4 separate regions of the Homo sapiens genome follow, and all the other regions are reported to be linked to region 2. The links are microRNA targets in miRTarBase. Many come from high-throughput screens and were not tested one by one. Region 2 holds a microRNA gene; each other region holds the end of a gene's coding sequence.

Region 1 (7,659 bases), not on the chromosome of region 2:
TGATCTTATAATTTGTTTTGACCAATCACTACTATAGGTCAAAGCTTTCTGTTCCTCCTTCTATTTTCCATTTGGGAAATGCAGTCTCTCTTTTTTTCTAGGCTAAGTTACCTGACTGTGGTCAACAATAACACCAGTATTTCTTTTTCAAGACCTCCTGGAAAGTCAGTTCTCTCCAATCCTGTTCTAAAGTAACCAATTTTGATTGATTCAATTACACCAGAATGATTGTGTTGATTTCAGCCCAGTATTTCAGGCTGATGAAACAAGTTTTAATCTAATGCTTCTATTCATGATCATATTAGTGATAGCATTTCTCTCAGAGATGTGTCACCTGACAGAAACACAATATAATATAATGGTTTCATTTCCTAGCTCCAGCATCAGAGGACATGACTTCAAATTTCACCTCGATCACCACTAACTGTGGACTTAGACAAGCCACATCAATTCTCTAAACCTCAGTGGAGATAAAAATAATAGTAACTACACCAAAATGTTGTGTGATTACATGAGAGTCATCACAAAGGTTTTGCATGAGACTTAATGCATAAAACACATTAACCTCAACTGTTATTTTTATTTTGAGATGTACACACTCTCTGGTCTCAAAAAGAAGTAAGATATCCATCAAATAATACATAGAAAAGAACAAAGGCTGGAGCCCTCCTGCACTTTTTTAGAGACCACCCTCCAGGTCAGCACTTTTCAAACTACAGGTTAATGAGTGAGAAATTCATTTGGTGAGTCATAAATTTGATATTTTTTAACTAGAATAGAATGTTTTTAAAAATGAATAGAACAAAACAGAATGTATGAGTGCATTTCTCTATGTTGTTGCATATGCACAAACATATGCACACGAGGATAAACCATAAAATGCATTTCTTACTGTGGGCCACAACAACAACAACATAACAACAAAAAAGGATTTGACAGCCACTACCCTAGTCTGATTCAGAACTATTAATATTAAATACGTTCTTTACCAATGATACACTATTTAGGAAGACATCACTGCCCCCTACTGGAACTCTTGGATTTCTCACAGAAAAGGACAGCAATGGATTAGCCTGTCTTCTCATTAGCCATGTGACTTCAACCATCCTCTCACCTACCCTGTCTGGAAGTTCATCTCAAAGAGCCTCATCCCTCAAGCTAGTGTGATGCCCTGGATAAGGAGTCAAAGGCAGCACTAGAAGTGGCAGCTGGGTTCTCACCTTTGAAATCGTTTTGAAAGCACAGCATCCTTCCCTCTCACCTGCCTCGCAGTCTGTACTGGGAAGCCAAGCCAAGCAGCCCCACTGTGCAGTCCTGGCCACGCAAGTTATTCTTGATCCTGCACCATGGCAGCTGGGGAGAATCCCCACCCCCTAAGCAGTCACTTGTCTCTGCTTCTCTGGGGAGAAGACACCCCTTAGAGGAGGGTGAACGAAGTGCACATTCCCAGAGCCAGCACTTCCAGCAGCCTCCATCCTCAAGTCCCCTGAGTTCTGGAATAATCAGACAGAGTTGGGAGAGTGAGGGGGTACATATCAGGAAATATATGCTGTCCCACCGAAGAGGGAAGACCGCCAAGTGAGAGGCCCAGTAGCAAAGAGCACCCCTAACATACACACCCTCCCGCTTAACGGTGTGGGACCCAGGAATAGATGTGCTTATTAAGAATCTACTCAGTTCTGCTTCATTGTGACAGCTACCACCAATTGACATTCATACCAAGCCATCCATACATCTCGTCTCAATTAAAAGTCTGAGCAGAGGAATAATTGAAGCTTAAAGAGGTAAAGTAAGTTGCTCAGGTCACTCAGTGATGAAAAGGAGAAAGAGCTTCAGACCCAAGTGTCCCTGAATGCAGGACCAGGGTGCCTGGCCACACCTCCAGGTTTGGCTGCACTTCTCAATGTCAAGGCTTACATGCCTCCAAAGATGGATTTCCTTTTTAGCCATTTCCTTGTCTATGACATAAGTAAGTCTGATATAATTCTGACAGCCCTGGGCTCAGGGAAGTTAATTAATTTGCAGAAGGTCACACAGCTAGTAAGAAACAGATTCTAACCTAAGTATGCCCAACTCCAAAACACATTACATTGCCCCCACCTGAGCTGCCACCTGAGTGAGTGCAGAGCCCATTCCCTTGAATTTCTTCCTTCTTTGCCGCTTGTCCACACATCTCAATGGGAGCAATTAAAAGAGGAAAAGAGACCAAAACTGACAAGGTCATGAAAAACAAGGAAAGGCAGAAACCGTCATAGACCAGAGATGCATAGGGAAATATGGCAACTAAATCCAATGTGGGATCAGAAGAACATTAGTGGGGAAAACTGTTGATATCTGAATCAAGGCTGGAGTGTTGTGTTGCAATCGCCAAGTCCTAATGTGTTTTCTACCTTCTCCACTGCTGCCCTAATCTAGTCTCATGCTGCTTCTAGAATCATCTTTCCAAAGCACAAATCTGACCATGTTTCTTTCAACTGCTTATAATCCTTCTATACCTTCCCCTCAACCTCCAGGTAGAATCCAAACCCTCTTTGCTTCCCTGAATCTGCTCCAGCCTCACTGCACTCAGAGTGACCTGTTCTCAGAAAACATCACCCCCTGTCCACCCTCTGGACCTTTGCTTGACACATGCACTGTCTGTCAATACCAACCTGCTGGTCTGCAGTTAGAATTAAGTAAGTGTCCCTTTCAGAACTCAGTTTGGATATCACGTCCTCCAGAAAGCCCTTCCTGATGCCCGTAACCCTGTCTGGGTAAAATCCCTTCCCCGCAGTGCCTGTAACATCCTGTAACTAACACCAATCACAATGCTTCTGATACTGAATCATATTACATAATATATCATTTGCCCCTTTCCTGTCACCCAGCTGAATCCCCACTTCCCTGAAATGTGTGCCCAAACCTGGCATTGAATGACACTGACCCTCCTCAGAAGGAGCTCAGTCCTCTTCCCTGCTTACTCCATTTCTCTGAGTGTGCAAGGAAAAAGTGGTTGTTGCTAGTCTGTCATCTACACTCTCTGCCACTTATTAATCTCTCTGTTTTCAAACAATGCCAGATAAGGCCTAGGCTGGGTGCTTGCAATGAGCAACAGGACCTAGCTTGAAGTTAATGCATTATTTTATTTTCATTGTATTTGCCATTATTTACATAATTCTGTTTATGGAAAACAATACAAGTTTTTCTTCTATATAGACTAGTCATCCCTTATAAAAATAAGTTAATATGAGTAAAAGAAGTAAATCAATTTAGAAAATGTTTTGTAAAGGCTCTTTGGTGCATATCGTGATAAATGCATGCATACATACACACACGTGTACATATACACACACAACTGTGAAGGAAGCCCTGAACAGCAGAAATCCTGTCATTTGTGCAACTAAGTCCTTGAGTCATGAGACCCCCGCCTCAAGTACCACTGTCTTTGCCACTAACTACCAATGTGTCTGGGAGAAAGTTACCCTTCTGTTCCTCAGTTTACTCACCTGTAAAAAGAAGATAATATAATTGAGCTATAAAAATATATTATTTCATCTCTCCAATACTATTTCTCATCCTATTCATACAGTATAAAAATAGCACTGCTGAAAAACCCAGAGGTGAGGTTCTTTTATCAGAGGACAAATATCTGAGATGTGTAGAGGTTAAGTGACTTGCCCAAGGTCGCACTGCAATTTAATATCAAAATCAAGACCAAAATACAGGTTCCCTTTAGTGATAGGCTTCCTGATCCCTCATCCTAACACCCTCCATTCCTGCATATTCCCTTCCCCAAATAAACTTCTGCCAAATGAGGTGCATTATATTTACAAAGAGGAAGAAAATGAACACACACACACACACATACATATATATACACATGCACAATATAAAGGCATCTTAAAATAATGGAAAAGCAAATAAGAAAAGGACAAAAGCAATATTGGATTTCAGAATGTTAATACTGTTGGACAGGGAACTAGTATACCTGAAAGCTGAGAAAACATGTTACAGGGTTTTCCACAATGTTGCAATGCCCTTCTTGTTCTTTATTTAGATTAGATGTAAGGAGCCAGCAGTCACACAGCCCATATAAGATTTGAGGGAACAATTAGAATAAAGAGGGTAACTAGATCATGTTTGGCTATGATACACTTATTTTTTTAAATGTTTAAGTAGAGACCAAATCCAATCACCACTTTACTCTCTGTGGATCATGAAAAAAAGACAGCATCAACATGTTTCCAAAGGGAATAGCTGGCCCACATTTCAAAAATGAAAATTTTAAACACTTTTTAAAAGAGTTTTAGCAAGCGGTTTACATATAGAATGTAGTAATTGCAATTATATAGCACAATGTTTTTCTTATTTTAAAAAAATAGTCTTACCCTTGTCTTTGGAAACATGCTAAACATTTTTATAACTGACCTGGTTATGGGTAAATTCATCAGATTTATAGGTAAATCAAAGTGCACAGAATTGGGAAATTTTAGCTAAAATTTCCAAGGAGATGTAACATGGATAGAAACAACGCTCTTCACGTATGTGTGTGTATGTGTATGCATATGCAAATGCATGTGCATATTTGCAGCAATTGAGAAAGATCTGTCCAAACAGAAGTTCAAGTCAGAAGACACAGAAGTTTCAACTGATTATAAAGCTCAATGGAAGCCAAGGACAGATGTGGCTGCTGGGGAGAGGAAGAATCAAATTAAGTATAGTAACATCCCTCTGTACTCTTCACCCACCGGCCAATATCAAAAGCCTCATGCAGTTGTGGGAACTGCTCTTTCAGAGAAACAGAAACAAATCTGGCCAGAGGAGAGTGAGTGGTCAGTGGGAAAAGGGAGGGGATCTGTAACCTGAGTCAGATGGGGAATGGCCAGTGGCATGGTTTCCAGGGCTGTGTGAGCCTTCTTCAAATACACGATATGTAACTGTTCTGGAATGTGTGTGCCCCTGACTGTCTCCCAGGAATGTTGTTGAAAGGACTATGCACGGGAGATTAGACTGAATAGCCTCAACCGCAACGTCCCTCCCAGCTTGGGGCTTTTACAGCTTGTGGTGGGGGCAAAACCACATCTATTCTCCATGGTAGTAGATTAGATAACTTTACTAATTAGACAACTGGAAGCTTCTCCTTCCTGGAGAATACTCTCTAGAGTAGACAGCCTTTTGACAACCAACCACATCTCTAAGAGAAAATGTGTGCCAATTAGTAGACAACCTTGATGACTAGAAGATGCAATGGCGGCTCAACTCACCACTCCCATCTCACCCTTTCATACAACCAATCATCTGGTCAGCCCAAGAAGCTAGAAATTAAGGGCAGATGGTCTGATAATAAAAGCTAAGCTGATGGGCATCAGATGCAGGGAATTATGGCTGGTATCCTTGTGGTTCACAGAAAAGGAGCAAGGGTGAACCACCTGCATCAGGCTTGCTTGAGTTGCTTTCTAAAAATGCATGTTCCTGGGATACATCCCAGATCTACTGAATCAGAATTATTAGAGATAGAAACCAAGAAGTTCATGTTCCACAACCTCACCAGGTAATAGTTATGCACACTATCTGAGGGCTCTTGCCCTGCAGTGGTGCTTCCCATACTTTAGGGTGCATTAAAATCACCAGGAAAGCTTGGACGAGTCAGCGTTCTGGGATCCAGAGATTCTGATTCAGAGATCATAGGTGGGGCCACAGATTTTCATTTCAAACAATCTCACAGGTGATGCTGATGCTGCTGGTTAGTGGACCATATTTTCAGTTTGCTGAAATTAGAGAATTCCCAATTTCATTATCAAAGAACTCAGATACTGTGGTAGGTCACTTCTGAAATGATCCCCAATGATTCCTCACCATCTGGTATTCAAGCTGTTGGTAAACACTCCCCTCTTGTGGGAGCTAGACCTAGTGACTCATTTATTATGAATTGAATAGGCAAGACTAAGGAGATGTCACTTCTGTGATCAGGTTATAGAAAGAGTCACTCCCTTTTCTCCTGCTCACTCTGGTTCTTGCTCCTCTTGTTTGCTCCCTCTAGTGAAGCATGGTGCCATGTTGTGACTGCCCTGTGGAGAGGCCCACGTGGCAAGTGGCTGCAGGAAGCCTCTGGCCAACAGCTAGCAAAAAACTGACTCCTAACAACAGCTGTGTGGGTGAGCTTGGAAGCCCATCCTTCTCTAGTTGAAGTTGAGATAACTGCAGCCCCAGCTGATTGCAGCCTGTGAACCACCCTAAGCTGGTGGGCTCAGCTAAGTCATGCTTGGATTCCTGCCCTTCAGAAACCATGAGATTATAAGTGTTTTAGGCCACTCAGTGTGCTATGCAGTGATGTTATTAATAGAGATGCTTTGTAAAGCAGCTGCCCTGAAATCAATAAGATGCCTTGTAGTTGGGTATGGCACATGCCTGTAGTTCCAGCTACTCAGGAGGTTGACACTGGAGGATCACTTGAGCCCCGGAGTCTGAGGTCGCAGGAAGCCCTGACTGTACCACTGAACTCCAGCCTGGGCAACAGAGGAGAAACTGTCTCAAAAAAAAAAAAAAAAAAAAAAGACATGTATTGGTATTCTCTCCCATCCATCAAGTCCTCCATCTCATCTGCCCCCATTGTGGATGAGACAAAATGTGTGTGTAAATGTAACTGGACAATATTTAATCATATACACTATTTACATGTAATTTATGTCATAATTTTCTTAACATTCAATTTCCAAGCCTTTGCTCTTGGAAAGCTTCCCTGGAGCTTCTGGGAGGTTATGTGGGAGCACAGCCTTATGGCAGGAGGAAGATGGTGAATCCAAGTCAGGTTTCGTGCAATCCATCTGGCCATTCTGAGGCTGTGTCTTTTGAGCTAAGATCCTGGTGAATTCTCTCCTGTCAATCCCTGTGAGCATGAGGAGTGATACATACTTTGGTTCTGAAGAAAGAAATGGAAAAAACTACAGGTTCCTCTGCTGGCAAGGGGAAGGGGTCTTTCCCTGAGAAAATCGGTGAAGAGCACAAATTCCAATCTGCTTGCCTTTGCACCAGTGCAGTGACTGATTTCCTCATTGGGGGAGGAAGGAAGGCTCCTGGAGGGCAAGATCCCTCATCTTCTCCAGAATTATGTATGGAGAAAGTGCTTTTCAGAGGCTGTTTGTGTGGAAGGCAACAGTCAACCGGTAAAGGCTCCAGATGCAAAGCCTGGAACCAGGAATTCTCATCGCTGCACCATCAAATCTTTCTGTGGCCTGCAATGAGCCCTTCTCCTCCTGGACTTCATTCTTCTTCTTGTGAAATGAGGGGGCTAGGCCAGGTAAGGACTCGGACCCTCCCAATGAGTATTTAAGAGCCTAGGGCAGTGGGGTCAGAGTCTGGCCATGCCAAATGTCCAGAGACAGGACAGCTTTCCTCAGAGGGCCAGGCCACCACCACTCAGCCACCGCGCCCTCTCTGAGGAGCACCCGGAGGGCCTGCTGTGCCACAGGGGGCTCTGGCAGATGTTGTCCAGCCTGCTCCTAATGGTGTCCTGAAGCTCCTCATCACCCAGCAGGACCGCTGCTGCCAGGGCCAGAAGGAAGTACTCAGTGGCATCATGGGCATCCTAACCCCGTGGTATGGGGGCAAAGAAGAGACAGCATTAGCAAACACTTCCAGGACAGGCTAGGAGGCTGTGCTGGCCACTCTAGTTTTTTTTGT
Region 2 (7,982 bases):
CTCTTCTTAGAAGGACACCAGTCAGATTAGATGAGAACTACCCTTAGGACCTAATTTTACCTTAATCACCTCTTTAAGCCTCTATCTTCAAATACAGTCACAGCAGGAGTTGCGGCTTCAACATGCGAATTTTAGGGGGAGACACAAGTTAGTTCCTAATAATACCTATAATACATTATCAATGGAATAAAAATGGAATCCATGGAGTAATAGATTTAGTGTATGTTCCCATCAACAAATATTCCTGGTTCAAATTTGAGCAGCACTGGCCAGGCATGGTGGCTCTTATCTGTAATCCCAGCACTTTGGGAGGCTGAGGTGGGTGGATCACCTGAGGTCAAGAGTTTGAGACTAGCCTGGCCAACATGGTGAAACCTGATCTCTACTAAAAATGCAAAAAATTAGCTGGGTGTGGTGGTGGGTGCCTGTAATCCCAGCTACCTGGGAGGCTGAGGCATGAGAATAGCTCGAGCCTGGGAAGCAGACACTGCAGTGAGCTGAGATTGCGCCATTGCACTCCAGCCTGGGCAACACATTTCTGGGCTAAACCGGGCCACAATTCCATTGTCACAGAAAGTGGCAGCGAATCTCAAAGGGTTTTCGGTTGAGCATGGAGAATGGCTCACTGAGCTGTTGCTTTCATTGTTTTCCCCAAGGATCTTGGAGTGCTGCATGCTCTCATATTCTCACATGGTCAGGAGTTCTTACTCACCAGGAAACAGCTGGGGAAAGAAGTAACATGTCCTCTCTAACTTACATGTGAAGGAACATTTTGAGTATGACGAGAACATGCAGAAAGATCTCCTGACATAACTGTTATCCGTAGGGGGTTCCATTTAGCCCTACACAAAATCCCCTTGGGTTGCGAAACAGAAATATGGAGAGGCAGCTGCGGCTTTCACTGCCCTACTCCTCCCTCCTCTTAACCTTTCATTTAAAAATCTAAAACAGGCCAATCTGATCCTCTAGGAAGATTAAGAAATTTTTGCTGGCAATAGGAAGCATGCAACTAAGGAAAAAGCCCTCAAAACAAACAGCCCCTCAAAGATGAGGTCTGAGCTATTGTGATTTCTTTTCAGAAGCTCTAAGAGCAAGACAGCTGACAGCTAAATGAGCGGGCACTATTTTGAGAACTCGCATTCAGGATTAATTGTAGGGGTGAGGTTCTGTGGGCTCAGAGAGGCTGCCTGTAGCCACGAGGACAATGAGTGATTCTCCCCTCATCGTCTTCCACTTGGGACTCTCAGAGCTGGTTGCCATGGTTGATGAAGTGAAGTGCACATGCTTCCGCCTTGATGACAGTGAGTGACAGGAGGTTGTTAAGGAAGCAGTGGGGGAGGATGAGTGAGAAGGTTATGCAGGGTGTGTGGCCAACCCTGGACCTGTCCAGTATAATGCCAGGCTTTGAGCAAAATGCCAAGAAGAAGACTGGATGAAGTGAGAAACTACTCATTTCATAGACGTTGCATGGCGATGCCTGCACACACAAGACTCCTACATTTCTGTTCTTCCTCTTCTGCTCTCTTTTCCACTCTTACCCTTGCTGATCTGACCTGCTTGGGCTGTCTCGATTATTTCTTATAAAGCCCTGACCACTCTCTCCTGAGCTGCTGTCTCCCATCTCTGGAGGTCAGCCAGGTACTTCCATTTGGAAGGCACACCATCCCCTTACAATCAACATGAGACAGATGAAATGTGGCACCTTTCCTTCCAAGCTTTCTCCCTGTCCCTATTCCTGTCCCAGGCTCCTCCTTGGATGGATTCCAGGTCCCCAAGGCAATCAGTGGCCTGGTCCTTCTTGGTCAAGGTTCATAGCATCATTTAAATTAGACTTGTCCCCTCTAGGCCCGTGACCATCAGCTTACTGCAAGCCATAATCAGGATGCCTGTGCTGGGCTGTGAAATGGCATTATAACTCATCGCTCATTCATCTTCCTTTTCCACTCCAGTCTATCCTAGGGCTCTGCCAGACTCAGCTTCCTCACATGCAACTTCCAGTATGATATCCTCTCACTTGCAATTTACAATGTCTTCCTGCTATTTACAGATTAAGCTCAGTTTTCACAGCTTAAAAGTTAAGACGTTTTATAATCTTGCTGCAACCTATGTTTCCAGTTACCCACTAACTCCTTCTTTACCCAGACATTCCACCCCAGCACTCAAACATACCTTGTATGTTTCTCCACCTCCCCCATTCCCTATTTTGAGGTCTGAGAACATGGTTTTCCTTTTCCAGGTATGACTGGCTGGCACTGTTTTGCCATTCTGAAAATTACCTCCAGTTCTTCAAGTTGGATTTCATTCCACCTTCCAGGTTAAACTCACGTCCTACCTCCTCTATGGAGCCCTCCCTGACCTCACCCCTACAAGGGGCTCTCCCTTCTCCAAACTCCCACAACTTTTTAATGTATATATTCACATTTATTGCACATATATATCTTTTGGCATTTACTTTTACAAAGCTAAAGTTTTGCAATACAGACTCCTAGGAAGTTGCAAAAATAGTAGAGTCCTGTGTGTCCTTTAGCTTCTGGCCATGTTGTGAATTTCCATAGCTGTGGTGCAATATCAGAGCCAGGAAACCCACATGGGAACATTCCCAGTTAACATTATCCAGTAGACTAGATGCCTTCATCTTTTATTCATTTATTTGTTCTTTAAGATGGATTCTCGCTCTGTCACCCAGGCTAGAGTGCAGTGGCACGATCTTGGCTCACTGCAACCTCTGCCTCCCAAGTTCAAATGATTCTCCTGCCTCAGCCTCCCCAGTAGCTGGGATTACAGGCATGTGCCACCATGCTTGGCTAATTTTTGTATTTTTAGTGGAGATAGGGTTCCACCATGTTGGCCAGGCTGGTCTCGAACTCCTGACCTCAGGTGGTCCATCCTCCTCAGCCTCTCAAAGTGCTGGGTTTACAGGCATGAGCCACTGCACCTGGCCACCTTCATTATTTTTAACCCACATTCATTTGTGTGTATGTGCTCGTGTAGCTCTGTAGGTGTATACTTCCGTTTAACTTTATCCCATTACAGGTCCATGTACCCACCACCACCATCAAATGAGGAACTATTCCACACCACAGAAGAATTCCTTATTCCTATCTGTCTGTGTTTGCACCTGGCCCCATCCTACCCATTGTACCTGTCTACTAGTATCCACTAAGGTATTCTCCACCTCTGCTGTTTTATCGTTTTGAGAATGCTTTATAAAGATAACTTTTTGAAGTTGGCTTTTTTTCACTAAGCGTAATGCCCTTCAGACTCATCTAGGTTATTGTGTGTGTCAACAGTTCATTTCTTTTGATTGCTGAATAGCAGCATTCCAAACTATGGATGGACCATAGATTTTTCAACCATTCACCTGTGAGAAACATTCATTTTGTTGTTGTTGTTGTTGCTGTTTGTCCAGAATTTAGCTACTATAAAGAAAGCTGCTATGGATATTTTTATATAACTTTTTGTGAACATAAATTCATATTTCTTTGGGATAAATGCTTAAGAGAACAATTGCTGGACCACATGGTAAGTGCATGTTTAGTTTTATGAGAAACTGCCAAAGAGTTTTCCAGAATGTCTGCACCATATTACATACCCACCAGCAATGCATGAGAGATCCAGTTTCTCCACATCTTTGCCAGCATGTGGCGTTATAATTTTTAAAAAATTTTTGTTGTTCTCATAAATGTGTAGCCAGGCATGCATTTTTGATGTGTAGACCTATCCACCTATCCATCAGGGCATGAGTCAAACATTTCCAAAGGCAGTGACTTGTCCTTGGTACAGCCCATGATGCATCAGACATGTAGATTCTCACCAAAATACCTATGGACCAACTGCCTTCTATCTAGAAGTGTTATCACACTTTCCACTGCATACTCTGCTAATAGGCACTTTTATCCACACCTCATTATTCTCCTCCATCATTGCCCTCTGGATTGTAAACTGCTTGAGGTTAAAGATGATGTCTTAATTGTGTAGACCCTAATTGTTGGCAAATAGTAGCTGCTACACAAATTTGTGTGTGTGTGGGTTTTGTTGTGGGAGACTGAAATTCTGAAGCTTTTTTTTTTTTGGTGTGGGGGGTGGGAGGGAGTCTTGCTCTGTTGCCCAGGCTGGAGTTCAGTGGCCCAATCTCTGCTCTCTGCAGCTTCCGCCTCCCAGGTTCAAGCATTTCTCCTGCCTCAGCCTCCCAAGTAGCTGGGATTATAGGCGTGCACCACCACGCCTGGCTAATTTTTTTATTTTTAGTAGAGACAGGGTTTCTCTGTGTTGGCCAGGCTGATCTCGAATTCCTGACCTCATGATCTGCCTGCCTCGGCCTCCCAAAGTGCTGGGATTATAGGCGTGAGCCACTGTGCCCAGTCAATTCTGCAACTTTTTTTATTGCAAAGAAGGAAGGGTGCTCAAGGCATAGAGAACAACACAGAGGCCTCACCTTGAGAGGCATAGCCATGGGGTTTAGATTGAACATGAATTTAGTTTTGATACTTAAGAATTCTAACTTCATGTTCAATCTAAACACCATGGCAGCCCTGGTCTCAGCCTTACCTCTGCAGTCTAGTTGTCGCTTGGACAGTACATCCTTTCCCAGTAACGAGATGACACACCCCTGTGCATATTTCAGGCTGCTTTCTATCTTGTTTTTCACCATTCTCACACCAAGAACACCAAGGTTTGTGAGGCCTCTGTTGTATATTGTGACAAAGAGCAATTTATATGGTTGGCAATAAAGCAGGTTTTTTAGGGGTTGATATTTTTCAGTTTAATTTTCATCCCTTTAGTGGGTTGAATTGTGGTCCTTCAAAAATATATCAACATCCCAACCCCTGGAATCTCAGAATATGACCTTACTTGGAAATACAGTCTTTGCAGAGTTAAAGAAAGTAAGAACCTCTAGATAAGGTCATCCTTCATTAGGGTGGGTCCTAAATCCACTGAAGAATGTCATATAAGAGACAGAAAAGGAGAAGGCACAGAGACACAAAAAAGAAGCCATGTGAAGGTGGAGGCAGAGACTGGAGTGAGGCAGCCACAGGCTCAGCAGTGTGAAGGGTTGAGGAAGCCTCTGGAGGCTGGGAGAGGTGAGGAACTGATGTGCCCTCAGAGCCTCCAGAAGGCACCAGCCCTGCTGACTTCTTGATTTCAGATGTCTGTGAGAGAAGAAACGTCTGTTGTTTTAAGCCACTCCATCGTGGTCATTTTGCATGGCAGACCTAAGAAACGGATGCCATCTTCAAGATCATTTGAACAGTATAGAAAAATGTATTTCACAAAACTTTTACTTATTATTTCACATTTTTAAACTTCATATTCCACGTTTTGCTTTATTTTGGGTATCAAGGCTTCTAGGGCATATTTTAATCACCCCAGAAGCATGGACATAATAAGACCTGGTTAAAGAGTGCACTGTGAGTGAGCCATGGGGTGAAGGATCCTGCTGCTGCCTCACAGCCTCCTGCCTCCCTGTGCACACATAGGTTTACTGTCAGGACTGTAATGAGGTTTGCATGAATAAACAGCTTTAGAAACAGCTTTCAAGTTTCCACCAAAATACCTGTTAGGAAGTCTTGTTTCCACCATAATTGCTAATTGCTTACCTACATGTGACCTGGGTATCCATAATGCAGACATGAGCAACACATGATTGTAGAAAATTCTAATTTAAATTATTACATTTTTATTTGGGTTCCACGCAGAAAACATCTTAGGCAGCCACTGCAGATTATTTCTAGAAGCGAAGGGAAACCTGGCTTGGAGATGGAGTGGGTGAGAAGCTAGAAGGGAATCTGTTAAGGATGCCAGGGATGGAGGGGTTCCTTCTCCATGAAAATAAGTGGAGTCAAGGAGGAATCCTTGAGGCAGCCTCTCCAAGACATGCAGGATCATGGGTTTTGACTAGGGGAATTTTACGATATTCTAGTGCAGGGATATAAGGAGGCAATGTCCAGGGAACAGGGCTCTTCCCCCAAAGACAGAACCCCTGGGTCCCTCATCCTTTCCGCATCTTCTGCTGTGTTTGGTATCCAAGGCCCTTGGCCCAGCCATTTGGAGTCCACTCAAATCCACACCTACATGGTGAGGAATAAAGGGAGACAAACTCATTGGAGTCATTGCCCCCATAGAGCTTCCTTTCCTAGACAGACGGAAACCCAGCAAACACACGAAGCGAGACATCAGGCAATGAGTGATACCTGGGTGTAGAGAACAAGGCATCCCTTCTATTCTTGCTCCTAAGGATTTCAGGTAGTTTGTTGCCCAGCCCACTTAGGCTATAAATGCTGCTTTCTCTCCAACTAGTCATAGCTATCAGCCAGCCTGGCCACTTTGGAAATAAGAATATTTAATGCACTCATGGACGTGGGAGCCTGTGTTCTAAGACATTCTTACTCAGTCATAGTTAGCTGAGACTCTAAAGAGTGGCATATGTAATCAAGATAAAATATGAAGTGTGCATCTGGTATATTTTGGAGCCTATAAAGAAAGATTCTGTGCTGATAATATTTACATTGGGTTTTTCTTGTTGTTTTGTTTTTCCAAGATGATGGAATATAGGCATTGTTAGCATTCCTTTTCCACTTGGAAAGATAAAATAGTGTGTAGAGATTCACACTGTGAACTTTTTTCCAAGAAGGAACACAGGACCGTAAACAGCTTTGAAAGAAGCTGTGAGTAGCAGCCTACACCGCTGTCTTTGGGAAACACCACTGAACATGTAAGGATTCTTATAGACTACAGGTAAAGGGTGGAAAAAGAGATTTCCAGCAAATGGAAGCCAAAAACAAGGAGTAGCGATTCTGATATCAAATAAAACGGACTTCAAAGCAACAACAGCAAAAAAAAAAAAAAAAACAAAACAAAAAACAACAAGAAAAAGACAAAGGTCACTATATAATGATAAAATGACCAATTAAACAAGAAGATGTAACAATTGTAAATATATATGCATCAAACTCCAGAGTTCCTAAGTTCTTGAAGCAATCAGTATATCAAAAAGACACCTGTACACATGTTTATCACAGCACAATTCACAACTGTAAAGATATGGAATCCTCACGCCTGTAATCCCAGCACTTTGGGAGGCCGAGGCGGGTGGATCACGAGGTCAGGAGATCGAGACCATCCTGGCTAACAAGGTGAAACCCCGTCTCTACTAAAAGTACAAAAAATTAGCCGGGCGCGGTGGCGGGCGCCTGTAGTCCCAGCTACTCGGGAGGCTGAGGCAGGAGAATGGCGTGAACCCGGGAAGCGGAGCTTGCAGTGAGCCGAGATTGCGCCACTGCAGTCCGCAGTCCGGCCTGGGCGACAGAGCGAGACTCCGTCTCAAAAAAAAAAAAAAAAAAAAAAAAAAAAAAAAAAAAAAAAAGATATGGAATCAACCTGAGTCCTCATCAATCCATGAATGGATAAAGAAAATGTGGTTCATACACAACTTACCCATGTAAAAAACCTGTACGTGTACCCTCTGAGCCTAAAATAACAGTTGGAAAGGAAAAAAATCATAAAAGCAAGACTCAACTAAAAAAAAACAAAAAGAAAAAATTGTGATATATATACCATGAAATGCAACCCAGCCATAAAAAAAAATATAATGACTTTTATAGCAACTTGGATGAAACTGGGGGCCGTTATTCTAAGTGAAGTAACTCAGGAATTAAAAACCAGGTACTCATGCTCTCACTTATAAGTGGGAGCTAAGCTATAGGTATGCCAAGGCATTCAGAGTGGTGTAATGGACATTGGAGACTCAGAAGTGGGGAGGGAGGTGAGGAATGAAAAACTAGCAGTTGGGTAAATGTATACTATTTGGGTGATGCGTGCACTAAAATCCTAGACTTCACCACTACACGATTCATCCACGTAACCAAAAACCACTTGTACCATTAAAACTAATGAAAGAAAAAAATTAACTAATTAATTTAAAAACCACACTGGGGAGTCCCTGCATGCTAAGTAGGTAGAACAAATCAATCATAAATGACTGC
Region 3 (7,982 bases), not on the chromosome of region 2:
AACATTTTCCTTTGTTAGGAAGAATTAAAACTATGATCAGAGAAAAGAAATGAGTATAGAGTTGGTTAATTTCATTATCATGTTCAAATTGTGCCTTGCATATAGAAGGTTCTTTATTTGGTTAAGGAGTGAAGTGGTTAGTATCTGTTTAAAAAAAAAAAGAAACCCAAGTTTCAGTGGGCTTCTATTTTTCTGGGATTTATGTGACTTGGAATAGCAACATCAATTTTATAGGATTAAAAGGGACCTTTGAAGGTAATCAGAAGCTATTTTTTAACCTATCTAGGTAACAATGATACTGAGACCATTTCAGAAAGAGAGTTATTGGCATTCTTAAAAACACAGAGCAGAGAATATACAGTTTTTCCTGGCAACAATTCTTAAAATTTCTATGATTGTTTCCAGAAATAGAAAAAATATTTGATTGCTCAGCAGTCTCTTGCCCAGTGTGAAATTAATAATGGAAATTCTATTTCATGGCATTAAGTATTGAACTTGCTCTTCTTAGTTTGTCATAATTTAATGTAGGTGTGAAAAACTTAGAAAAAATTGGTAATAGAATAGAGAACTCCTAAAGACAGATAGTGAACTTTTCAGATGAAACTCAGAATAGATTCATCTCTTCAGGGCATGTTTCTGTAAGTATAGCTTCCATGCATATTGAAGATAAAGGATTTGGTCAGTGAAACATTTTTATAGGTATTTCTTTTTTATATAAAATTATTTTATTTAGTTTTTTAAGTTCTGAGGTACATGTGTAGGATGTGCAGGTTTGTTACACAGGTAAACATGTGCCATGGTGGTTTGCTGTACCTATCGACCCATCACCTAGGTATTAAGCCCAGCATGCATTAGCTTATTCCCCTAATGCTCTCCCCCCACCCTCCCCCAACAGGCCCCAGTAAGTGTTCCCCTCCCTGTGTCCATGTGTTCTCATTGTTCAGCTCCTACTTGTAAGTGAGAACATGCGGTGTTTGGGTTTCTGTTCCTGCATTAGTTTGCTGAGAATAATGGCTTCCAGCTTCATCCGTGTCTCTGCAAAGGACATGATCTCATTCCTTTTTATGGCTACATAGTATTCCATGGCATATATGTACCATATTTTCTTTATCTAGTCTATCATTGATGGGCATTTGGGTTGATTCCATGTCTTTGCTATTGGGAATAGTGCTGCAGTAAACATACATGTGCATGTATCTTTATAATAGAATGGTTTATATTCCTTTGAGTATATACCCAGTAATGGGATTGCTGGGTCAAATGGTATTTGTGGTTCTAAATCTTTGAGGAATCACCACACTGTCTTCCACAGTGGTTGAACTAATTTACATTCCCACCAACAGTGTGAAAGTGTTCCTATTTCTCCGTACCGTCACCAGCATTTGTTGTTTCTTGACTTTTTAGTAATCGCCATTCTGACTGGCATACGATGGTATCTCATTGTGGTTTTGATTTGCATTTCTCTAATGATCAGTGATGTTGAGCTGTTTTTTTAATATGTTTGTTGGCCATATATATGTCTTTTTTTGAGAAGTGTCTGTTCATATCCTTTGCCTGCTTTTTAATGGGATTGTTTTTTTCTTGTAAATTTGCTTAAGTTCCTTGTGGATTCTGGATATTAGTCCTTTGTGAGATAGATAGATTGCAAAAATTTTCTCCCATTCTGTAGGTTGTCTGTTCAACTCTGATGATAATTTCGTTTGCTGTGCAGAAGCTCTTTAGTTAGATCCAATTTTTCAATTTTAAAAAAAGGTTTTATTAAGGTTTTTCAAGTTTTTAGAAATGTAGCCTATCCTAGGATTTGTTTCTACCTATTTTTTTTATTTTGTTTGATACATGGTTAGGTTTATAATTGGAATGTAAGTTTTCCTAGATGTCTTGTTTTCCTGGTTATGGCCCAAGATCAATTCTTGCTCCAAAGCATTTGTGCTGAAGAATGGCAGAGTACCTGATTTATTTAGTCTCAAACAATTTCACTGCCTGCTATGTTCAAGACCCGGTAGGTTTAATGCTCTGTAGTAGCTATAATGTAAATGTACCATGAAGAAATGCTATTTTCTTCTACTTATTCTTCATTTCAAACTATTGTCTTATACTAGTGCTAAGCATTATCTGTTTGTGATTTGCTGAAAAACAAATTCTTTGTCAAAGAAATACTTTCCTTAAAAATGAGAAAGCAATCTTAAGTCTCATAAATCTAATCCAGGATCCTTCTATCATAAACTTAACTGTCTTGATTTTTACTGAGATTAGCCAAAATCAGAGCCAAAAAATTCCCCCTTGCACTAATTTGTTACCCTTACATTGACATTAAAGGTTTGGCATTTAATTCTCCATCTTGATCTTGAACTAAATTTCCTGAGAACTGTAATTGTTACAAGCCTTGCCACTCAGGCATGTCATGAAGACTCACTTCTGCCAAAATAGTTATAGCTATTAAATTCCTCTGTGATAACTTTTTTGTTTTCCTAACTCTAAATTAAGATTTGGCACACAGTAAGACAACACAATCTAACAAAAAAGAATCTGGATGTTAGATTTAAATAGATTTGAATTTAAATTCAGGCTGTGCTGGTTACCAACTAGGTAACTTTAGGCAAATTATGCAATCTGTGTGATCCTCAGTTTCCTCTTCTGTAAAGTGAGGATGTTACCTACTTCATGGCATTATGTGAAGATTTAAAGGGATGACTTTAAAAGCGCCTATAAATTGTCTGGCACATAAAATATTCAATAAGTGGTATTATTCTTAAAAAATATTATGATCCTATTGCCTTTGTCTGTCTTATACTCTGAGTGATACTAGTTGAACTACCTAATGGCTGAGGGCCTGCTTAGTGCCAGACATGTGCTAGACATTTTATATCACTACCTCAATGACTGTAAATCCCTTTTTTTCACATTTCCAGTTAAATTGGTTCTGTTACTTAAATGTTCTTCTCCTTTTTTCTTTCCACAGGAAAACGGGCCTTACTATACATCATATCCCCCATCACCAGATTTGTGACCTGCCATCTTTCAGTGCTTCTTGGTTCCCAGGATGCCACTTCCTCCACGAATAGCTACCTGTTGAAGTGATATTCATTGTTGCTGTACAGATCCAGAGAGCCTTTTGTCCCCACCTCTCTGGTATTTTTTTATTGACTGTATATTTTCTGGCACATAAGCAATCTAAAAATGGTAGGCCATTCTGAACTGCACACATTTTAAATTTGTATATTTATATGAAATGGAAATGTTCATTTTTAGATTGTTAATAGAAATTGGGGAGCAACTTTTGAGTATCTTTAGTTTCCTGAAGGACACCGAATTCTCCATTAGATAAACCACCAAGACTGTTCACATCATCTCTCTAACATTGCACGCTTCCTTTGTGTACTTAAGTGATTCTCGAAATATACAGAACCAATGTATGCTAACCAGATGCATTGTTTGCTTCAGATCCATGGTGTTAATACCATGTATATTTTATAAAGATAATTTGGCTGTGTTAAAAGAGAATTACCTGAGTCCAAGAATGTGGAAATGTATCTGACAAAAAACATCAAAATCATTAGCAAAACATAGGACTTAGAATGTTAATGTACAAGTTAAGACTAAAGTTTAAGGACTAAGGTTCCTTGGATTATATGACTTGTTAAGATTGCCACAGTTCCGATCTCAACAGTGTGGGGTGAAACAAGAAGACTGTATCTTCAGCCTTTTTCCTATAATCATGGATGATTTGGTCTTATTCAAAAGGACCGCACATATTAGTACTCTTAAGAGCATCTTCCAAGACTCCAGCAGTGAGCATTTAGAGAGTGTGTTGTCTTCCAGAGTCATGAATGATTTTGTTTAGCTATCAGGTCTACTACCTCTAAGGACATTTCATAGCAGCATCTCTTGAGTTGCCTGCATCAGTGTGGAGGAAGTGTGTCACAGTGAACAAATCCAGGGAGCTGATAATTGGCAAAAGACCACTTTTACCACTCAGGCTCTATTTGTGCCTTAGCTTGGTTATGAGTAAAAATTAGAATTATGCTGCCTACCTCACAGAGGTATCATGAAGATAGCATTTAGAAAGGGCTTTGTTGTGGTGGGGTATCTTCAGTTAGTTTTTAAATGGGAATAAATATATATGAGGGAATGCTACACAGCACTCCTCTTGTCCTTGATACCATTTGAGTGATTTTTCTTTTTGTGTGGCAATACCTGTTAGTGTAAAATTCCAACCCTGATGACCTCCTTCCTCTTTTGTCCAGAATCTCTTCTGGCCTGCTCATCCCCTGATGCTATACTTCAATAAGAGGCATCTGTTGGCCATTTTAAACATTTCTTCTTGAATTAAGGTCAAACCATTATTATTCCCATCTGGGTAGCTTTGTACTTTTTTTGATTCCTACAGCCACCTCCCCACAGCCCCATCTTCCTCACCCCATCACGTACATTGGCAGTTCAGAGAAAAAAAAAAGCAGAACCTTTCTGTTCTATCATGTGCTCCAGATCAGTGCTTCCAAGGGTCCCATTCTTTTCTGCCCAAACTAATTCTTCATTGGAGATCAAAGAAACATATTCTCTTCATTTATGATAGGGAAATGCCCCTATAGTGCATTAAATTCATCCTGTATTTTCCCATATAAACAAGAAGAGACTTTACATTTTTTAGATAAAGGTTCTTATCTTTTGCATGTATTGAACACATTTTCTTTGTGTCAGACCTCAAAATTACTTGATCCTTATATATACATCTATGTTAAGATTTTCTCTTATGTCCCCTAGGTCATCACATCCAGGCAGCCAGTCAGATGTCGGATGTTAAGCTTTCTCTCAAACAGTACTTTTTTTTTAACCCCTTGGGCACTGTACCTTAAAAGTCTGCAACTTTAACTTCATCTTCTACAGTCAATCGTGAGATCATATTTGAGGTATCTTCTTCACAAGGAGCAGCTATGAAAGTCTGCCAACTTTTCTTTGTTAAAGGGGAACTTGGCTACCTCAAGAACCTGGCCCAAACCATTTTCTGTAGAGATAATAGAGGCCGTAAGCTACTTTGCCAATTTGAAAGGAAGCAAATTTATATATACAATTTCTTACAGGCAATGATTTTGAAAGGATGTTCCTTTGCTATATTCATACCAGTATATTAATGTTTAGTAACACAAGCAGGATTCTACATATGCTGAGATTTTAGTACAATTGATGTCCTAGGGTATAAAGGTGATACAGAACTATATACATATCAACTGTGTTTTATAATTCAATGATGACTAAAGAAAGATAAGGACCACTCTTCTCACTGAAACTAAATTTGATGTGGGACCAAGTTCATGCTTTTATAGATGTCTAAAGTGTTATAGAATGAAGTTGCTTCAAAGTACCAAATCCTAGAGGAGAAATATAATGACCTTGATATTGAAATGATTAAGCAACATTTGGTATACCAATCTGCCTTTGTGAAAAGGTTTAGCCTGAATAATACATGCCATTTTCAAGGACATATTAGAGGATAAAGGGGATACTGGATGGAGATGACCACCAGCATCTGATGTTAATTCAAAGCACCACCAAGTCTTTAATTTAATTAAACTTTGGTCATGCCAAATGCTAATTGAATTGTTGAAGACACAAGTTATAAAATATTAATTTATTAATCATGCAAGGCATAATATGATTTTTAAAACAAGTACACTTCTTGCTTCCACGTGTATTTGGGTTCTTAATTCATCTATATCCAAGTTTCTTGATAGTGAAAATTACCTCTTAAAAAAGGTTCAGCCTTTATTAGACTCGTGAGGGCAAATGGTACATATTTTAAAGACGTTTTCTCCTTTAATGTATATTATGTTTCATTGGCGGATGCTTTATATTTCCTTTTTCTTTTTCTTTTTTTTTTGGAGACAGTCTTACTCTGTCACCCAAGCTGGAGTGCAATGGTGTGATCTCGGCTCACTGCAGCCTCGGCCTCCCAGGTTTAAGTGGTTCTCCTGCCTCAGCCTCCCTAGTAGCTGGGACTACAGGTGCCTGCCACCATGCCTGGCTAATTTTTTTTTTTTTTTTTTTTTTTTTCAGTAGAGACAGGGTTTCACCATGTTGGCCAGACTGGTCTCAAACTCCTGACCTCAAGTGATCTTCCTGCCTCGGCCTCCCAAAGTGTTGGGCTTACCAGTATGAGCCACCGTGCCCATCCTGTATTTCCTTTTTCAAAGGAATACATCTGCAGTATTTTGAGAGTAATTAGCAGAGGGTTTTTTGAGTATTTTTGGTAGGAAAAATAGATGTAGTTTTTTAATCAAATTTCTGAAATTGAAAATATCACTTCTTTTTAAAGAGGGATAAGTATAGTCACTCTAGTAGAAAAACATGGCTTGCCTATTTCCTCTTCTTTTCTGTTTGCTTGGATATTGTTTAATGAATTCAAACTGTAGGTTTAGTCTTGTCTTTATAACAGTTAATGGAGAAGTGATAAAATTAAGTATTCAGCATAAACTAAAGATCACTCTTTGTATTTCCCCGATACATTGACAGTATGTATGTATATAGAGTTTAAATTGCTTAATATATGCACAGAAATGATTAGAATTTGAAGTACTATATAGAGGAGAGTTACATGGTTCTAGTGGCAGTGGATTGATTGTATTAAGGACCAAAAGAACTGCAGGATAATATAAAAACACCTTGAAAACTGGAGTTAGTTAGGTTTCTTTTTCTTTTTCTTTTTTTTTTTTAAAGGGCCTTACTGTACTTTTTTTTTTTTTTTGGTCACCCAGGCTGGAGTGCAATGGCACGATCTCGGCTCACTGTAATCTCTGTCTCCTGGGTTCAAGAGATTCTCCTGTCTCAGCCTCCCCAGTAAGTGAGATTATAGACATGCACCACCATGCCCGGCTAATTTTTGTATTTTTAGTAGAGACGGGGTTTCACCATGTTGGCCAGGCTGCTCTCGAATTCCTGACCTCAGGTGATCTGCCCACCTTGGCTTCTCAAAGTGCCAGATTACAGGCATAAGCCACTGTGCCTGGCCAGGTTTCTGATTATAGTTTTCTTAAGTTGTAATCATCATAATTAACGTGCGCTAGAGTGTTTTAACTGTGCTGGCACTAATGCTTCTTGGCATATAATTAACTCTTGTTTTGCAAAAAGACCATGAAGAATGAAAGGAGGGCTTTACCTTACCTTAGTCATTTTGGGTGAATACCGTAAACTGGGTGGCGTAACAAAACACATTTATTTCTCACAGTTGGAGGCTGAGAAACCCCAAGATCAAAGTGCCATCCAGCGCAATTCCTGATGAGGGCCCTCTTCTGGCTTCTTGCTGTATTCTCACTTGGCAGAGAGAGAGAGACATCGTTACTTTCCTGTCTCTTCTTATAAGGGCACTAATCTCATTCATGAGGGCTCCACCCTCATGACATGATTACCACCCAGAGGCCCCACCTCCAAATGCCATCACTTTGTATGTTAGGGCTTCAACATATGAATTTGCAGACGAGGAGGAGAACATAAGCATTCAGTTCATAACATACCTATAATCTAGGTCATATCATAAACCCAGAGATGATAAGGATTGCCTGGTAGGCCTAACCATATATACATATACATGCATGCACACACACATATATGCATAATCTGCCTTGTTTTACATTCTTTGAGTCGGACTTCTGTGGTCCATATGTAGAGAACATAGAGCAATAAATAACCTAGTTCAATCTTTGAGTCTTACTGAACTAGTCCTTAAACAGATGGTATCAAGATCATTTTAGATATTAGTGACTCTCTTGTATATTAGTTATTTTTTACACTTTTAAGAACAGCATCTTTGAATCTTTTCAAGTACAGTATGCCTTAAATGTATAGGACCACTGAGTTCAGGAAGAAAAGCATAGGTATTCTGTAGGTGAATTACACTAACAAAATCACAACTGCAGAATGTGATCTGATACTTTTGTTGGACAGTAAAGCTAATACATTTTATATACACAGTCATACCTTTTTTTTTTGTA
Region 4 (7,982 bases), not on the chromosome of region 2:
CTGCAATCTCTGCCTCCTGGGTTCAAGCGATTTTCCTACCTCAGCCTCCCAAGTAGCTGGGATTACAGGCACCTGCCACCATCCCCAGCTAATTTTTGTATTTTTAGTAGAGACAGAGTTTCGCCATGTTGGCCAGGCTGGTCTCAAACTCCTGGCCTCAAGTGATCTGCCTGCCTCAGCCTCCCAAAGCGCTGGGACCTGGGATTACAGGGGTGAGCCACCACACCAGCCCTCACAAACCTTTTGAGGTAGAAAATATTACCATGTCCTTTTTTACAGTCAGGAAATTAAGGTTAAGTAATAAGATTGTGGCCCTTGACCACACAGAGCTAAAAAAGAATTTACTGGTTTAGATTGAGCAGCTTGCTAAAGAATAATTTTTAATTATTTTTAATCTGTGTTAGATTTTTTTAAATAATTTCATTTTTAATTGTGGTAAAAAATATAACAAAATTGACCATCTTAATGAGTTTTAAGTATTCAGTTCAGTCATGTTAAGTACATTCATATTGTGGTGCAGTAGATTTCCAGAACTTGTTCATCTTGCAAAATTGAAACTCTGTACCCGGTAAACAACAACTCCCCATTTCCTCGTTCCCCCAGCCCCTGGCAGCCACTAATGTAAGTCCTGTTTCTATGAATTTGATTGACTTTAGATGCCTCATAAGAGAAATTACACAATATTTGTCTTTTTGAGACTAGCTTGTGTCAGCATAATGCCCTCAAGGTTCATCTACGTTTTGGCATGCAGAGGGCCTTCCTAAGGCTGAATAATATTAATATTACATTGTATGTATATACCACATTTTGCTTACCACTCATCTGCTGATGGACATTTGGGCTGCTTCCACCTCTTGGCTATTGTGAATAATGCTGCAATGAACATGAGTGTTCAGATATCTCTTCAATACCCTGATTTCAGTTCTTTTGGATCTGTAGCAAAAAGTGGGATTGCTGGATCATATGGTAAATTTTGTTCTTAATTTTTTGAGGAACCTCCATTCCATTTTCCATAGCAGCTGCACCATTTTACATTCCTACCAACAGTACACAAGAGTTCCAGTTTCCTCACATCCTCATCAACAATGGGTATTTTCTGCTGGTGGTGGTTTTTTGATAGTAGCCATCCTAATGGTTGTGAGGTGATACCTAGTGGTTTTGATTTGCATTTCCCTAGTGATTAGTGATGTTGAGCATCTTTTTTTTTTTTTTTTTTTTTCTGAGATGGAGGCTCGCTCTGTTGCCTAGGTAGAGTGCCGTGGTGCAATCTCGGCTTACTGCAACCTCTGCCTCCCGGGTTTAAGTGATTCTCCTGCCTCAGCCTCCTGAGTAGCTGGGACTACAGGCACCCACCACCATACCTGGCTAATTTTTGTATTTTTAATAGAGATGGAGTTTCACCATGTTGGCCAGGCTGGTCTTGAACTCCTGACCTCATGATCCACCCGCCTCTGCCTCCCAAAGTGCTGGGATTACAGGCATGAGCCACCGCACCCAGCCTATATTGAGCATCTTTTTATAGGCCATTTATATATCTCTGGAGAAATCTCTGTTCAAGTCCCTATGCCCATTTTTTAAATTGGGTTATTTTGCTGTTGAGTTCAAAAGTTCTTTATATATTCTAGATTTTTTTTTTCCCTTTCTTTTGAGACAGCATCTTGCTGTCTCCCAAGCTGTGGTATAGTGGCATGATCATGGCTCACTGCAGCCTCGACCTCCCGGCCTCCAACCTCAGCTTCCTGAGTAGCTGAGACTACACGCACACACCACCTAACTAATTTTTAATTGAGACAGGTTCTTGGTTTGTCACCCAGGTTGGAATGCAGGTGGCAGGATCACGGCTCACTGCAACCTAAGACCTCCTGGGCTTAAGCAGTCCTCCCACCTCAGCTTCCTGAGCAGCTGGGACTACAGGCATGTGCCACCACACTTGGCTAAATTTTTAAAAATTTTTTTTTAGAGACAGGGTCTTAATATATTGCCCAGGCTGTTCTTGAACACATGGGTTCAAGAGATTCTCCCACCTCAGCCTCCCAAAGTGCTGGGATTATAGGCGTGAGCCATACACCTTGCCTATTCTAGATCTTAACCCCTTAGCAGATATATGATTTGCAGATATTTCTTCTCATTCTGTAGGTTGCCTTTTCACTATTTATTGTCTTTCGATGTGCAGAAGTTTTTTAGTTGGATATAGTCCTATTTGTCTATTTTTGCTTTTGTTACCTCTGCTTTTGGTGTTGTATTTAAGATATTACTGCCAAATCCAATGTCAGAGAGTGTTTTCTTCTAGAAGTTTTATAGTTTTAGGTCTTACGGTTAGGTCTTTGATCTATTTTGAGTTAATATTTGTGTACAACATAAGGTGCGGCCCAACCTCACTCTTTTGCATGTGGATATCCAGGTTTCCCAGCACCATTTGTTGAAGAGACTGTTAGATTTTTTTAAATGCCCTGAAATGATTAGTTTGTAAGATTTTCTATTTAAAGGATTGTTACACATTGAAATTTAGCTTTAATGTTTTCTTAGTTATTGATATGGATAGAATTTCAAGTTTTGCAGGAATTATGCAGAATATTTTAATTAATAGTAAGATGTAATTTTTAAGTGGTCATTTAGGTCTTGTTTGTTTATGGAGTTGTTTTTTTGTTTGTTTCTTTGAGACGGAGTCTCACTCTTGTCACTCAGGCTGGAGTGCAGTGGCGCAATCTCAGCTTACTGCAGCCTCTGCCTCCCAGGTTCAAGCGATGCCCATGGCTCAGCCTTCCAAGTAGCTGGGACTACAGGCATGTGCCGCCACACCCCGCTAATTTTTGTGTTTATAGTAGAGAGGGGTTTCATCATGTTGGCCAGGCTGATCTTGGACTCCTGACCTCAGGTGATCTCCCTGCCTTGGCCCCCGAAAGTGCTGGGATTACAGGCGTGAGCCGCCACGCCTGGCCAGATTAAAATTTTAATATAAGGTAATTTCCAAGTAATTCTGTATATCTTTTCCAATGCTTAATATATACTAAAATGTTGGTTGCTGTGAGCTATTTCTTTAAAAAAGAAAAAAAAAAGGTAATCCAAAATAAATATGTGGAAATCATTTGCATAATTTTTCCCGTCCTCTTTTGCTTGTAGGGAAGCAGCTCGAGAGTGTCGTAGAAAGAAGAAAGAATATGTGAAATGTTTAGAAAACAGAGTGGCAGTGCTTGAAAATCAAAACAAGACATTGATTGAGGAGCTAAAAGCACTTAAGGACCTTTACTGCCACAAATCAGATTAATTTGGGATTTAAATTTTCACCTGTTAAGGTGGAAAATGGACTGGCTTGGCCACAACCTGAAAGACAAAATAAACATTTTATTTTCTAAACATTTCTTTTTTTCTATGCGCAAAACTGCCTGAAAGCAACTACAGAATTTCATTCATTTGTGCTTTTGCATTAAACTGTGAATGTTCCAACACCTGCCTCCACTTCTCCCCTCAAGAAATTTTCAACGCCAGGAATCATGAAGAGACTTCTGCTTTTCAACCCCCACCCTCCTCAAGAAGTAATAATTTGTTTACTTGTAAATTGATGGGAGAAATGAGGAAAAGAAAATCTTTTTAAAAATGATTTCAAGGTTTGTGCTGAGCTCCTTGATTGCCTTAGGGACAGAATTACCCCAGCCTCTTGAGCTGAAGTAATGTGTGGGCCGCATGCATAAAGTAAGTAAGGTGCAATGAAGAAGTGTTGATTGCCAAATTGACATGTTGTCACATTCTCATTGTGAATTATGTAAAGTTGTTAAGAGACATACCCTCTAAAAAAGAACTTTAGCATGGTATTGAAGGAATTAGAAATGAATTTGGAGTGCTTTTTATGTATGTTGTCTTCTTCAATACTGAAAATTTGTCCTTGGTTCTTAAAAGCATTCTGTACTAATACAGCTCTTCCATAGGGCAGTTGTTGCTTCTTAATTCAGTTCTGTATGTGTTCAACATTTTTGAATACATTAAAAGAAGTAACCAACTGAACGACAAAGCATGGTATTTGAATTTTAAATTAAAGCAAAGTAAATAAAAGTACAAAGCATATTTTAGTTAGTACTAAATTCTTAGTAAAATGCTGATCAGTAAACCAATCCCTTGAGTTATATAACAAGATTTTTAAATAAATGTTATTGTCCTCACCTTCAAAAATATTTATATTGTCACTCATTTACGTAAAAAGATATTTCTAATTTACTGTTGCCCATTGCACTTACATACCACCACCAAGAAAGCCTTCAAGATGTCAAATAAAGCAAAGTGATATATATTTGTTTATGAAATGTTACATGTAGAAAAATACTGATTTTAAATATTTTCCATATTAACAATTTAACAGAGAATCTCTAGTGAATTTTTTAAATGAAAGAAGTTGTAAGGATATAAAAAGTACAGTGTTAGATGTGCACAAGGAAAGTTATTTTCAGACATATTTGAATGACTGCTGTACTGCAATATTTGGATTGTCATTCTTACAAAACATTTTTTTGTTCTCTTGTAAAAAGAGTAGTTATTAGTTCTGCTTTAGCTTTCCAATATGCTGTATAGCCTTTGTCATTTTATAATTTTAATTCCTGATTAAAACAGTCTGTATTTGTGTATATCATACATTGTTTTCAATACCACTTTTAATTGTTACTCATTTTATTCACTAAGCTCGATAAATCTAACAGTTACTCTTAAAAAAAAAAAAAAAAGACTAAGGTGGATTTTAAAAATTGGAAACTGACATAATGTTAGGTTATAATTTCTCATTTGGAGCCGGGCGCAGTGGCTCACGCCTGTAATCCCAGCACTTTGGGAGGCCAAGGTGGGTGGATCACCTGTGGTCAAGAGTTCAAGACCAGCCTGGCCATCATGGTGAAACCCCATCTCTACTAAAAATACAAAAATTAGCCAGGCGTGGTGGCTGGCGCCTGTAATCCCAGCTACTCAGGAGGTTGAGGCAGCAGAATTGCTTGAACCCAGGAGGCAGAGGGTTGCAGTGAGCCGAGATAGCACCATTGCACTCCAGCCTGGGCGACTCCATCTCAAAAAATAAAAATAAAAAAAATGTCTCATTTGGGAAGGAAATTCCTTTTAAAAAAGAGTTGAGACACTTAGAAAACTAATGTTTTATATTTAGTCAAGAGTTATTTAAGAAAGTCAAGCTTGTTTAACAACAAAATATGAAGATTTAAGTGTTAATTGCTGGATCCATTTTAAAATAAGATTTTAATTAACATTTGTAAATGGTATATTTTCGTTTGTAACAAACCATTGTCTTTTTTCAAGGATGAACAGAGTTTATGAAGGAGCATCATTCTAAGAATTAAGTGATGTAGTCTTTATGTTTGGACAGTTCACCAGATTCTCAAGAAGGCTTTCAAACAACTATAAAGTTTGATGTTTGTCCTGCTGAGCTAATGGGGAAAGTTATAGCATAAAAATTGTGTAACCGCATAGATATGTCATTTTTAAAAACTGGTTTAACAGAAATCAAGCAAAGTCACAAATATGTTCACAAGTTGGAATTATTTATTGAGTCAAAATGTCGAATCGAACATTTTGAATGAAGTAAGTGTTATAAATGAAAAATTGCCTGATGTTTAGCAGTTTGTATTCTCTAAAGCTTTTTTTCAAAAGTTCAGGCTTTCTACTTACTGGGAAGTTGGTGGTCCTCTTAGTCCCTGATAAATCAAGGCAATCACATTCATGTGAGCTGGATGAATTTATAAGTTATAAAGACCTTATCCTTCATACCTTGAGGATGATTGCACTGGTTTTGAAGTCAGTTGCTTAATGATGAGGTGAGAAATGTATCCTGTTGCTAAATCTGTCTTAGACCCTTGGTGAAACTTGAAGATTTCAGTTTATAAAGATAAAATCAAGCATCTTTTGTGCAGTTTTCTTTTTTTAATGCAAGAATGGTGGGGAGGTTTGTTTGTAAGCATGAAACTTTGAGAATCTTTATTAAGAAAATGACATAATTTTTAAAAACCTTGTAGCCAAGAACATATGTGGCCACATTACCAGTAATAAATGTTTTTCTCTTTATATTGGCCAAAAGGGAATAAAAATGTCATCATAGGAATTTGTACATATGCTACTGATTTGCCTAGAAAATAGCAAGTTTGATATTGCTCACTTTGCAAATATAGGGCCATGTGGCACTTTTATCTATAGGACAGATTAATAAAAATGAAGTGGGGAGGGGTTTATTTTTGATATATTACTCTTATGAGTTTTCAAGCTTTGATAATGTTTAACTGAAAAGTGGCTTAGAAAGGGCTAGATCCAATGTGTTCATTATTAAATAATTGCTATCAGATACAATTTTAAGTTCATTCTTTTTCAAACTCAAGTACCATATTGGCAACCATAATATTGTCATAGGTGCTCTCTTCATTTAGATATTCTTGGGGGGGGTGGCATTTGTATAATATATGTGTACATATATATATATATATATATATATACATACAGTATATAATCTAAAGCTCTGAGAGCTCTTAAGTCAGGAATGCTGAGTATTATAGTATATTGAGGTCAGATGAAATTTTACATTTTTGTGTGTTCTGTTGCATTCCTTCTGGTAGTTTCTATGACTGCATTACTCCAGCACTCATGATTGATTTTATCTTCTAATTTTCTTCCAAGTATTTTATTTTTTATTAGTTTTCTTTGGCTTGATACTTTTAAATATGTTACTAGTCACTTGAAAGCCTCTCCCCCAAAAGTATTTGGTTTGTATGCTTTGTCTGTGGCAGCTATAACAGTGGTAAGAACATTTTGAAGATAGCTTTTTAAAGGAACCACTGATTTTTTCAAAAATCATCCTGGGGGAGGAATTTTGGCATTTCATTTGAGCAGGGATTTTGTCAGAAAATGTGTTTTGATGGTAGGTCAGCAGCAGTGCTAGTCTCTGAAAGCACAATACCAGTCAGGCAGCCTATCCCATCAGATGTCATCTGGCTGAAGTTTATCTCTGTCTCTCAGGATAAATCCCTGTAGGACAAATCCCTACTATCATTTCTACCTTTTGGGGTGACATGTGGAATCATACAAAGGCTTAGGAAGAAATACGTTTGTTTAAACCAGGATGCTTTACTTACTTGAAGTGACTTCAATCTAGATTTCTTTTAATATTTAACAAATTTTTAATTCTATGATCAGCCACAGTCAGCTATTACCATAAATTGGTCTCTGTTTATTTTGAAGATCACGGCTGCTTCATTTTGCAGGATTAAGTAGGGCTAATGTATCTTAAAGTTAAGATCTTGAATTAAAGTGAGTTTTAGAAATAGTGTTACATACCTTTTCAGTTGTTTTCAAGAGGCTTTATTTTTGTTGCCTTTGTAGCCCTGAAAGCTGTTGGTATATTTTTTCCCTCATGGACCCAATAGAAAAGTTGTATATTTATTTGGATTATATTTACATTCTGTCCTTTGTAAATGTTTGGTGTAACTTGCACTTTTTTAAATGACCCAGTTTGGGTATTAGCAACTTAAGAAATTCCCTCATCAAGTAATTCTCAACTTTTTAGTCTTTCTCCTCTCTTCAAATCATGTGACTTTTTAAATGGAAGTTTTTCATTGATTAAAATATTTTAGCACCTAAAAGCTAGCCTTAAAAACAGCTGTAAAAGAAAAACATCAGGAAATTAGATATGACTAGCCCAGTTAATTAAAAGACGGGCTCAAACCTTGTTTTATTCTTTTTCATCTTGGATGAAGATTGAAGGGAAAATAACTCAAGTGCATAATATTTATTTTCAATTTTTAATGAGACTTTATCCTCATCACAACATTAATACTGTACATAGTATGCCAAAATATCCATTAATTTGTCTAGAATAGTACAAGACTTTTTAAAGCAATTGTCCTCACAGAGACCACATGTAATATACTGAAATATGTTCATTTTTAATGGCTTTGTTAACATCAAAGAAATGCTGCCTAAATTTGATTTCAGATGAGGAAGGAGAAAGT

Evidence for each region. The annotated mature microRNA hsa-miR-4760-5p reads UUUAGAUUGAACAUGAAGUUAG and lies in region 2 at 4,498-4,519, opposite strand. An mRNA with a match to its seed (bases 2 to 7 or 8) in the 3' UTR can be bound and repressed. Matches are read on the target gene's strand: a 7mer-m8 pairs with bases 2 to 8, a 7mer-A1 pairs with bases 2 to 7 and ends in A, and an 8mer does both.
Region 1: the mRNA of SH3TC2 is a reported target of hsa-miR-4760-5p. Seed matches in the 3' UTR shown: 8mer at 4,032-4,039.
Region 3: miRTarBase lists GDAP2 as a target of hsa-miR-4760-5p. Seed matches in the 3' UTR shown: 8mer at 3,169-3,176.
Region 4: the mRNA of CREB1 is a reported target of hsa-miR-4760-5p. Seed matches in the 3' UTR shown: 7mer-m8 at 4,676-4,682 and 8mer at 6,483-6,490.

The regions. Positions count from the first base shown.
Region 1 is chr5:148,997,339-149,004,997 of GRCh38, forward strand. It overlaps SH3TC2 (SH3 domain and tetratricopeptide repeats 2), which reads right to left. Exons shown (of 17, transcript NM_024577.4): 17 at 1-7,564. The coding sequence ends at 7,373. Among named protein-coding and RNA genes, the nearest start is that of MIR584, 61 kb to the right of the region's middle.
Region 2 is chr21:40,207,904-40,215,885 of GRCh38, forward strand. It overlaps MIR4760 (microRNA 4760), which reads right to left and starts at 4,528; the gene lies at 4,449-4,528. The region is part of intron 11 of DSCAM (DS cell adhesion molecule); the gene reads right to left.
Region 3 is chr1:117,865,594-117,873,575 of GRCh38, reverse strand. GDAP2 (ganglioside induced differentiation associated protein 2) reads left to right here. Exons shown (of 14, transcript NM_017686.4): 14 at 2,960-7,982. The coding sequence ends at 3,007. Among named protein-coding and RNA genes, the nearest start is that of GDAP2, 60 kb to the left of the region's middle.
Region 4 is chr2:207,593,794-207,601,775 of GRCh38, forward strand. CREB1 (cAMP responsive element binding protein 1) reads left to right here. Exons shown (of 8, transcript NM_004379.5): 8 at 3,121-7,982. The coding sequence ends at 3,265. It also overlaps a transcript of METTL21A not described here. Among named protein-coding and RNA genes, the nearest start is that of METTL21A, 28 kb to the right of the region's middle.